Regions from separate parts of the Homo sapiens genome. Here region 2 is linked to region 1. Evidence: fine-mapped expression QTL. Tissue or cell type: whole blood. Region 1 holds a variant in brackets; the other region holds the start of a gene. All regions are shown on one strand. Distances are from middle to middle.

Region 1 (6,197 bases):
TGTTGTCACTACCTCTTATCCTCAAAGTAAGATTGAAGCCAGGGGTGGTAGCACACACCTATAGTCCCAGCTACTCAGGAAGCTGAGGTGGGAGCATTGCTTGAGCCCAGGAGTTCGAGGCTGCAGTGAGCTATGATTGCGCCACTGCACTCCAGCCTGGGTAATAGAGCGAGACTCTGTCTCTAAAGTAATAGTAATAATAATAATAATAATAAATAAACAAAGTAAGATTGAACAACCAGAAAGCAGCCCCCATGTGTGGCTCCTGCAAAGAATGCGTGGCTGTGGCCCGAGCCAGCTTTGTCTCATAAAATGTGTTTTGTATGCTAAGTAGGCTGCTGTTGTTTGAGGCAGAAGAACAATGAGTCACTTGTGTCATGTGCTATTGGGTGTGCTATTCTTCTAGGATTTCAGAGTGACCTGAGCTAAAGCAAGGACCTGATGGAACTTAAAGGCAAGACATCCTTAAAATTCATGCCTGCCCATCTCTCCTGGTCAGCCCTTGCCTTTTAAAGGGCACCACTCCATCATCACACAGCACAGAGTTGAGCTCATTGTTTTCCAGAATAAAATTTCAGATGCATGCTGGATACAAAAGGATTGTTTTTCTTCAATCATTTTTAAGAGTTTGAAGGATGACATGCAGATGAAAGCAGCCTCCCTGGGTGTGCTGGCCTTCTTCCTGTCTAGGTAGTATAGTCTAACAGGCCTTGGGCATAGTTAAGCTCTCTGGCTGTGGATCAAACTGTCTGGGGTCAAAGCTGAACACCATCACTTAACTAACCTGAGGATGCATCTGTTTCCTCATCTGCAAAATGGGGATCATAATAATGACACCCGGCTGGGTGCGGTGGCTCACGCCTGTCATCCCAGCACTTTGGGAGGCCAAGGAGGGCGGATCACCTGAAGTCGGGAGTTCGAGACGAGCCTGAGCCCGACCAACATGGAGAAACCCCATATCTACTAAAAAAAAATACAAAATTAGCCTGTAATCCCAGCTACTCAGGAGGCTGACGCAGGAGAATGGCTTGGACCCAGGAGGTGGTGGTTGCAGTGAGCCGAGATTGTGCCATTGCACTCCAGCCTGGGTGACAGAGCGAGACTCCATCTCAAAATAACAATAATAATAATAATAATAATAGTGACACCCATCTCAAAAGGCTGAGAGTCCATGAGGTGTAGGCATCACCTTTTCCCGGCACCTGTAAACCCGTAGCAACTGTTAGCCATTATAATTGAGGTTTGTTGGTGTTCTAGCATAAGACTCTGCATTGCTGGGTAAATTCCATTCTGACCAAAGTGGGTAAAAGTTTGTTATGCTTTACTAAGTACACTCTGAGCTTCTAACTGCCTGAACCCTATGTGGGTGTTGATTTCAGTTTCTGACCTCACAGGACTCCTCTGGGCCAAATGGCCTTTGTCAAGCAGTTTCTATAAAAGGGACTTCTTTCAGAGCCTTGTTGAATTAACTGGGGCTTCCTTTAAATAAGGGCTTGTTTTTAGAAGCTTTCTTTTTCCAACAAGGAAAAGAACACAATGGATTCCAAGTAATCTCCAGTCCTCATCACAGCTTGTCACAAACACCTGGCACGTCTTTTCTGACTAGAGTGAAAACACACACACACACACACACACACACACACACACACACACACACACACACTAGCTTCAGGGACACAGCCTCAGCCTGATGCTCCAAAAGCATTTACTGCAAACTTCCTCTCACTACAGAGTTATTTCCTGGAAGAACAACAAAAACTGTTTTTGAATTGACAATGTGGCTTTAGTTGCTGCTGAAGTTAAGTGAAAGTACCAACCATTGTTACTATTAACCTAAACAAAATCTTAAAAGAATTACTTTCTTTTTCTTTTCTTTTTTTTGGACAACAACAAGAACAAGATATTTTTCCTTTCTTTGCTGATCAGTATGAAGAATGATTTATCAGTAAAGTCAATTTCAGGCAAAGGCAGAACTTAGGAATTGGGTTAAAGTGTTGCTTATTTCAACCAAAAGAAAACTTTCTAATTTGTTTGGGCAGCATTTACTTGGTTCTTCGAAAAGCAATTGTGACAAACAGTACAGAGAGTTAAGGCACTTATTGGCATATAAAAAGATGCCAGCATTTGGAGTTGCACATAACAAAGAAATATCTTAAATACTTTTCAAAATATTCTAGGAGCCAAGACACAAGGGCATGCTTCAGGAGAACACAGGAATGTAATTTGGGAGGAAAATTGCAACTACCCCTTCCCTTTAAAATCACTGAGCAAAACAAAGCAGCATTCTACTTCACATACTGACTTTACATAGTTTATATATAATAGTTTGACTTTAAGAAGCAAAGATGGGACTCTCACTGTTTATCTTTTATTTATTCTTTTTTATTTTTTGAGACAAAGTCTCACTCTGTCACCCAGGCTGGAGTGCAATGGCATGATCTCAGCTCACTGCAACCTCTGCCTCCTGGGTTCAAGCAATTCTTGTGCCTCAGCCTCCCAAGTAGCTGGGACTACAGGCGCGTGCTACCACATCTGGTTAATCTTTTTGTATTTTTAGTAGACATGGGGTTTCACTATGTTGGCCAGGGTGGTCTTGAACTCCTGGCCTCAGGCGATCTGCCTGCCTCGACCTCCCAAAGTGCTGGGATTACAGGCATGAGCCACTGTGCCGGGCCTCTCACTATTTTGAAAAATAATTGCATGGTCACCCATGTAACCCACCCCAGTCTGGCAAGTTTAATTGGGAGAGGTCTCCGTTACTTAGAAGAGTACCAATTTGACACTTTAATTCAGATAGCCCTGACTTCATTTTTGGGGAGCAACTTAGAGAGGTTCATTCTTTCCCCCCTGACTCATCCTCTGTTGATCCAGTCCCGAATTTCACCAGCTTTTTTATGCATAATTTGCATAACAATTTCACCCAAATGGATCTCAACTGAGCATCATTTCTGCAAGAAGACTATGGAGTTTGTCTATAGAGAAAATTAAATCAAATTCATAGACATTTTTAAGAGTCTGTCAAATGTTTCCACATGTATTTACATGTGGTCTAAAACCCTAAGGGCATTGTAAGAAGCCACACAAAAGACCCAAATGAATGTTCTAAGGGGCATAAAGCAGTTTGTTGTCTGAGCCACCTGTTAAGGGAAATGAGTGGAACTTGGAGAGTCAGGCTTTCCTGTCCCTCTTGATC[A/G]TGACGGTCACTTGGAGAACAGTGAGTCCAACCCGCTGGGGTGGCCACAGGGGATGGACCTTTACTAACATAAAAGAAAAATTTTTTAAAAATTCTTTGAATGGTTTCCAAATGAGCACTCCCTCCAAAGTGGAACTTAATACCACAACAGATATTCACCCTGTGCAAATACAGGTTGAGCACCCCAATCCGAAAATGTGAAATCTGAAATGCTCCCAAATTTGAAACTTTTTGAACACTTTGTGATGCCACAGGTGAAAAATCCACACCTGACCTCATGTGATGGGTCATATATATCATATGAAATATTGTTTAAAATTACCTTCAGGCTATGTGTATAAGGTATGCATGAAACATAAATGAATTCCATATTTAGACCTGGGTCTTATCCCCAAGATATTTCATTATGTATATGAAAATATCCCAAAATTCAGAAAACCTGAAATCTGAACACTTCTTGTCCCTAGCATTTTGGATAAGGGATACTCAACCTGTACATGCAGTATGAATATATATTCCTATTTTTTTCTTTTTTAGGCAAACGCTAACATACAATATACACTTCTGTACCTTCTTTTTATCACTTACTAATTAGTATGTCTTAGAGAGCTTTTAAAAACCAGTATATAGACTTGGAGAGTTTCTTCAACTAATTTCACAGCTGTTATATTTTACTGTATAGCTACATCAAAATTTATTTAACCATTTCCCCATTGATTGACACAGGAATTGGTCCTAATCTTCTGCCATTACATATAATGCTACAATGAATAACCATGACATTTTGTACTGTGGGAGTATATCTGCAGGATAAATTCCCAAGAATGCAATTGTGAGTCAAGGATACGTGTGTTCATGAATTTGACAGATATTCCCAAGTTGCCCTCCATCAGAATTACATCAACATGCCTATATAGAGCATGCCTATTTCCCCACAACCTTGCCAAGACAGTGTGTTATAAAACTCCCAGACTTCTGCCAAACTGATAGTGAGTATGGTAGTGAGGAAGAGTTTTTTTATTTTTATTTTTATTTTTGAGAGGGAGTCTAGCTCTGTCACCCAGGCTGGAGTGCAGTGGCGCGATCTCGGCTCCACTGCAACTTCCACCTCCCGGGTTCAGGCGATTCTCTTACCTCAGCCTTCTGAGTAGCTGGGATTACAGGCACGTGCCACCACGCCCGGCTAATTTTTGTATTTTTGGTAGAGACGGGGTTTCACCACATTGGTCAGGCTGGTCTCGAACTCCTGGCCTCAAGTGATATGCCCGCCTCGGCCTCCCAAAGTGCTGGGATTACGGGTGTGAGCCACTGAGCTTGGCTGTTAAAAAATAAATTACCTTGAGTTGACCTGGCGCCTTGAGTTTAACTCTATCATTATCAATTCAGTTTGTTTTGGGTTTGGAGGTTAACCCTCCAATGTGTAGAACTTCATATTTGCATTATTTTTGGCCTATAACTTTCGAGTGACTGAGACTTCAAGATGTGCATTATGGCTTAAGTCGTCTTATACATCTGCAACAGCAGATGTATACACAACCCACTCAAAATTTGTGTGTGCAGTAATATTTCATTTGGGACATATTGTTTGTAAACTGATGCTATTTAAATTACTTGCAGCATAATCTCAACACATGTAAAAATACTTTTACACTTGTAGGATATTGTTTTATAATACAAATTCTTGTGTACAAACTCCATTAACATTTTATTTATGTACAGATCATTATTACCAGTTTTTGTTTCCCAGTTGAGAGTGGGGAGGGCAGATGGGCTCAGAATCTTTGCATGTGCCAGCATCCTGCAGTCTCAAACTTTTCCATTCAAAGCAAATACCTGTGCCAATATCTGTGTCACTTCCAACAAGAATGAATGCTGCCTAAGTGCTCTCCACACATTTGCAAAATGACATCAGGCCCCCCAGGTCTTCCAAGAACCAAAGGAAAAGTTCCACAAAAGTGAATCCTGCCATACAAACAGTCCCAGCACTTTCCAGCTCCTTTTTCATTCCAGATTCAAAGGTCTGGCACCAGGATGAGCTGAAGTGTAAGGCATCCACCACTCTCCCCCTGCTCCTACTCCCATCCCACCCAAAGCCTTGTCTAGAGAAAGCTCCTCCCAGCCTCAGGCCCAGGAATGGGAATCTCTGTGGGTCACACATCAGTAGGGAGGTCTTTCCCGATCCTTTTCTATGCTACTCCAGGAGTCAAAGCGTCTCCTGGGACTTTTCAGGGCGCTTCAGAAGAGCCCTGGGCCTAAACCAGCTCAACCAAGCTGCAGGGACCCAGCCTCCTGAGAAAAGTGAATGTGAGCCCGGTGCATTCAGAGGAGAATGAAGCCTTCACCCAGAACACACTCTGGGAAGATGTCCCAGGCCCAGGGGGAGGGTTTGTACTACCAGACCTAAGTCACCTAAACTGACACCAAGTCTCATCCATCCCAACCATTCCATTCCGGGTCAGAGGGGTCATCGATTTAACCAGCAAGGCTGCCCATCCAACGGTTGCTCCCTCTGCTCCCTGGAAGGGCCTCCTCGTGGGCGTTCTGTACCTACAGGTCTTGTTCCGTTCTGGGAACTGCCAGTGGTGGCAAGAGGTGGAGCAACGGGTGCCAGGGCAGGGAGAGGTGAGTCTGGGAGGGAAGCAGAGGCAAGATCCATGGGGCTTTAGAGACTTTGCCAAAGCAGTGCGACTGCTCCCAGGTTGTTGTCAGCCGTCAAGAGTGAGTGCACCTCCCTGGGCAGACTTCTGCTGCCCCAGTGCCCAGGAATAGGCAGGGGTTTGCCGCAAAATGAATGACACCTGGCAGACAATAAGCTGAAGCTTTCATTAGCAGCTTAAGCTGAGGACTATCTATGCAACCGATACTCCCTGTGTGCTCCCCGGGACTGCTTAATGTGAGCCCTTGTGGAGCGATTGGCACCAAGAAAGCAAGGACTAAGTCAGAAGTTCAAGTCCCAGCCTTGCCACAGCCTCAGGGTGCCCTCGAGCACAGCAAGCCTCAGTTT
Region 2 (5,363 bases), 93 kb after region 1:
AACAAAAAGCAAGGCCTCCAAAATTATTTCTAGGCTCTCAGCTAATAACTTAATTTCCCTAAATACTAAAGAAGCCTAAAAAACCCCTTAATTTCCCAAGTTGTATTCTTTTTCTCCTCTTACCATGAGATCTTCATCTCGGTCTGGAGACAACACCAGAGGAATGATGACCTGGTTACGGAACAGCGGTGTTTTTTCATGCTTCAAGACCTTGTTCAGAGTGTTCAGCTGTCCAGAAAGCAAGGCAAAGCTGTCCAGGACAGATGGCCTGGTGGTGGTAACAAGGTGTAAGAATGTTGTACCCCTTCCCTGGGTGGTTCTTAGTAAAATAGTCCTAGTTCCTTCAGGCTAGGAACACTTGGATTCACCTCCAAAAGTCTCATAGCCCTATGACTAGCCTAAGTGGGAACAGACTAACAGGGATGACAGGGCTATGAAAGAGGGACATAGTTTCAGTTTATGAAACAGACGTAGAAAAAACCCAGTTCATTGTTTGAATGGGGTGAGGAACAGTGGCAAAATAGGAACCAGGGCTACACTGTTATAACTAAAACTTCAGAAACCGGGTAAAAGCCTCCTTTCCAGCCTGGAAATAAGATCCACACTTCAGAGTAGGTTGGCTCTAAAAGACTCAGCCACATCTGTGGCAAGAGATCCAGCACGAATAGAGCTGTAGTGGGAGGACCTCCTCACCAGAGAAGTCAAAGGGTAAGAATTGAAAGCTAGAAAGAACTTGGGTTAGGAAACTGAGCATTTCTCTACTTCCTTGCCATGGAATCCACTTGCTAAATGTTAGGAAACCCAGCTCTTTCCAAATCAAAAGATGTTTGCAAACTGATAAATGGTTACATCATTAGAAATGTCCTATTCATCAGGAGGCTAGGCCCCCCCACCCATAAGCCCTTCCTAGCTTGCCCTGGTAACTCTTACCAGGTCAGCCGGCCATACTCGTTCTCCAACTTGCAAATGAAACTCCCCAGAGAGTTCTTCAGATCAGCCACTTGACTCAGCAGTGCATCTAATGATGCCTCAAGCTGCTTCTCCTCTCTCTGCACCAATAGGAACAGGTTGGTCACCCAGATAAACGAGTATGACACATAGAAAGGAGGGCTGGAAAGCCAAGGAGATGGTGTGCAACACCAGTCAGGTAACACAGGATCTCATTGGCATAGGATAGCCAGGTTGTTTTCTATCTTTGGTATTTGGGTTATAGACAGCATCAACCCTGAGACCTTCCAACCTGTTTGCCTGACCCCAAGTCCTTCCACCAACTGATTCCTTTTCCCCATCACCTCCTAATCTATGCCTGGTTTTTCTCTGTGTTAGGTACACCCTACACTCCCTCACTGAGACATTTTCGACAGACCTAATGCCAGGAGATCATTCTCTCATGTGCACCTCTGTAGCACATGCACTCCAGCTTCCTCCATCCTAGCATCTGTGAGCCTGGCTGTCTTGTCAGTCTCTGGGAAATCTGCCTACTCATGAAGACTTCTCTGAACACCAGTCCTGCTCTCCCCTTTCCCTCCCCCAACCAACGACTCCAGCTTTCCATCTGCTCTCATCATTTTGTTTCAACCTTCTCCTTGCTGAATTAATATGCAATCATCTATCTCTGTGTCAATATTCCCGTGCCTCTTTCACAAGCTCAGTCAACCCATTAACATTTATTGAGACTACCAGCTGCAAGAAACTAAGTGACAAATGAAAAACAAAAACCACACATGCTTCTAAGCACTGGACAAACAAATTAAAATGCTGGGGGTCTGCAAAGCATTTCCTTCCCATCGGTGGTCTCCTGTTTTACTCCATTTCTTCACCCTTAACAACTATAGGGCACAGGCTGGGAAGAGGGATGCAAAACTGTCTTGCAAACCTGCCTGACAGAAACTTGATCCCGGGTTCCACCATGGCCTCTGATTATAAGCTGCTTAGCTTTCAGCCATCGCGGCCCACAATTCCCTCACTGCTTGGGCTTCTTTCCAATTAGATCCCCTGCTATATCGGCAACCAACAGCCTCCATCCAGCAGCTTAGGACAGGGCCTGAGCCAACCCACCACCTTCTTGAGCCGTCTTCCTTGGACTGCATCTCAGCCTCCCCGTATTACAACCTAATCCTTTCCCACGCCAAGCAAACAGGTGCTGCCTCCTCCCTCCGGATTTAGCCCGACTGTCTCCTGTCAGGCAAGCTCCACCCCCACCTCTAATCGCCGCCGCTCCCGCTCCAATTAGCCTCGCCCCCCAGCCCACATTCCCTTATCAGCCGTGGGTTCTGCCCTCTCTTCTCAGTCCCAACTCTTCATTCTCCTTAGCCAGCCCACTCTCGGTCCCTGTACCCGAAGCTTGCCAGCCGCTAGTACGCCCAACGCAACTCTCACCTGCATTGCGGCGGCCGAGGCGGCTGCCACGATTTCACTTCCGGTTTTCCAGTCAGCAAACGCCTACGAGAAGGCTTCGTCCACCAATCAGAAAACTGGAACTCGGCCCTCCCACCAACTTCCGGTTCCTGCTGGGTGCCGAGGTAGCGAGGTCAGGGGTCAAGAGTGGAACACCCTCACTGGCCCGGGCCGGCGCGGGAGGGCTGTGTGATGGCCTCGGAGCGCCCGGAGCCGGAGGTGAGGGGCGGGCGGGCGCAGCACTGGGCCCCGAGATCCGAGGGGGAGGGTCCGGCGGGCAGGCGTGGCGTTGGCCTCCTCTAGGTCTGGGGGTGGCCGGGCTGCGTAGCCTCGGCAGGGACCAGCCCAGCCCGGAAGGCCCGACTATGGTACCCCTGCGGACTGTGTATGGGACGCGGTCCGCAGTTTCCTCGGGGAGCTAAAGGAGTAACTGTTCGCTTTGTTTTGTTTACTGACATGTCACCCGCGTCGTCGTCTCTAAGACTTATAGCGGTGTTAACAAAACTTGTATTTTGACTTTCTGTTGCAGTTTCAATGGGCAACACGGCAGTAGATTTACTTTGCTGGTTTTTGCATTTCTTTAGGCATTGGAATACCATAAACAGCATGAATTTATTTAGTTCTAGGGCTCATGCTTTTAGAAAAGCAGCTTTAATTTCATGAAAAAAACATTTGAGTCGGACTGAGACCTCGTTCCAATATTGGCGCTGTCATGTAGCTAATCTGTGCAACCTCAGGCGAGTCTTCCCGGATCCTGTTTCCTTCTTTATAAAATATCTGTCTTATAGTGTGTTGTGAGAATCACATGTAATAAACCAGAAAGGTGATATGATATATTCGTTAAATGCTAAGGAACATGCAAGGAACCTTATATATGTTGTGTCATTCAGACTTGTGCAAGGAAGGTGGCATTCTCACAGAGGAGAAAACTGAAAAATGAGAAAGATTTAGTACCTTACTCAAATGCCACTCATCCAGGAACTAGCAGTTTGGAGTTAGAAGATCTGAGCTTAAAATCTCAGATTCGGATAAAACACCACCACCAGGAAAGGTGCCAACATATCAGTAGGTGGGAAGGGTGAGAGATGTGTATAATGATAGAAATAGTATTCATTACTGCATACATACTGCATGCTCAGTACCATTCTAAGCTCTTTACCAATATCAGTTAATCCTCAGCCCTATGAAGTGGACACTGTATCATCTCCTTTTTTTAGTTTAGGAACTGAGGCACAGAGATATTAAGAGTAACAAAGTAAGCCGGGCGCAGTGGCTTACACCTGTAATCCCAACACTGGGAGGCCGAGGTGGGCAGATCACCTGAGGTGAGGAGTTCGAGACCAGCCTGACCAACATGGAGAAAGCCTGTCTGTACTGAAAATGCAAAATTAGCCAAGCATGGTGGCGCAGGCCTGTAATCTCAGCTACTCGGGAGGCTGAGGCAGGAGAATCGCTTGAACCCGGGAGGTGGAGGTTGCGATGAGCTGAGATCATGCCATTGCACTTCAGCCTGGGCAACAAGAGTGAAACTCCGTCTCAAAAAAAAAAAAAAGTAACAAAGTTACACAGCTATTAAGTATTAGAGTCAGGACTCCAAAACAGATGGCCAGGCTCCAGTCCTTGTGTTCTTAACCATATTGTTCATGGTATAAGTAATAAAGTAGCCACAGAATGGTAAATCTCCAGTTCACTGGGATTTGGTGTGGTAAGACCCAACATTGAATATGGTGGTAGGAAACTATGCCTTATTTAAAATAGTCATGTTCACAGAGGTGGTAGAATAGCTCATGCATCAGAAATATCAATCAAGATCAATCAGAAATATTAACACAAGAAAAACTATGAAACAGTTTAGAGGATGTTTCATTATAGATTAAAGTGAAAGGAGGTGGAGGGATGTTGTGGGGAAATGCAACATACCTTTTAGGCAGATAGTCTAGGACAACACCGTCCTGTAGAAATCTAAAGCAAGCCACATGTGTAATATTAAATTTTCTGATAGCCACATAAAAAAATGAAACAAGGCCGGGCGCGGTGGCTCACGCCTGTAATCCCAGCACTTTGGGAGGCCGAGGCGGGCGGATCACGAGGTCAGGAGATCGAGACCATCCTGGCTAAAACGGTGAAACCCTGTCTCTACTAAAAAAAATACAAAAAATTAGCTGGGCGTGGTGGCGGGCGCCTGTAGTCCCAGCTACTCGGGAGGCTGAGGCAGGAGAATGGCGTGAACCCGGGAGGCGGAGCTTGCAGTGAGCTGAGATTGTGCCACTGCAGTCCAGCCTGGGCGACAGAGCGAGACTCCGTCTCAAAAAAAAAAAAAAAAAAAAAAAAAAAAAAAAAAAAAAAAAAAATGAAACAAATGAAATAAAATGTAATTATATATTTAACCCAAAACTCCCAAAATTTTCAAAATGTAATAAAATACAAAACATCGTGAGATATTTAACATTTTTTTTGGTACCAAGTCTTTAAAATCTAGTGTTGTATTTTACACTGATAGCACATCCCATCTTGGTCTAGCAACATTGTAAGTGCTCAGTAGCCCCATATAGTAGTCTTTACCATATAGAGCAGTACAGATCTAAAGTAATTTCAAGTCAAGACACACAATCCTGGGAGTCTCAGCCAAAAGTTAAGCTTTTTTTTTTTTTTTTTTGAGACGAAGTCTCGCTCTGTCGCCCAGGCTGGAGTGCAGTGGTGCGATCTTGGCTCACTGCAACCTCCGCCTCCCGGGTTCACGCCATTCTCCTGCCTCAGCCTCCCAAGTAGCTGGGACTACAGGCGCCTGCTACCATGCCCTGCTAACTTTTTGTGTTTTTAGTAAAGACGGGGTTTCACCGTGTTAGCCAGATAGTCTCAATCTCCTGTCCTCGTGATCCGCCTGCCTCGGCTTCCCAAAGTGCTGGGATTACAGGCGTGAGCCACCGTGCCCAGCCTAAGTTAAGCATTTTTTAACTCCCTGATTT

What was found. PIP is the estimated chance that this variant, and not a neighbour inherited with it, causes the effect.
Region 2: MED8 starts here. The variant in region 1 is fine-mapped to the expression of MED8 in whole blood (INTERVAL, PIP above 0.99).

The regions. Positions count from the first base shown.
Region 1 is chr1:43,294,222-43,300,418 of GRCh38, forward strand. No RefSeq gene overlaps it. Among named protein-coding and RNA genes, the nearest start is that of TIE1, 3.7 kb to the right of the region's middle. The variant A/G (reference allele first, on the strand shown) is at 3,194.
Region 2 is chr1:43,387,380-43,392,742 of GRCh38, forward strand. It overlaps MED8 (mediator complex subunit 8), which reads right to left and starts at 2,421. Exons shown (of 7, transcript NM_201542.5): 1 at 2,380-2,421; 2 at 931-1,049; 3 at 124-268. The coding sequence starts at 2,385. It overlaps SZT2 (SZT2 subunit of KICSTOR complex), which reads left to right and starts at 2,520. Exons shown (of 72, transcript NM_001365999.1): 1 at 2,520-2,616. The coding sequence starts at 2,590. RefSeq lists an enhancer at 931-1,070 and a silencer at 2,511-2,840.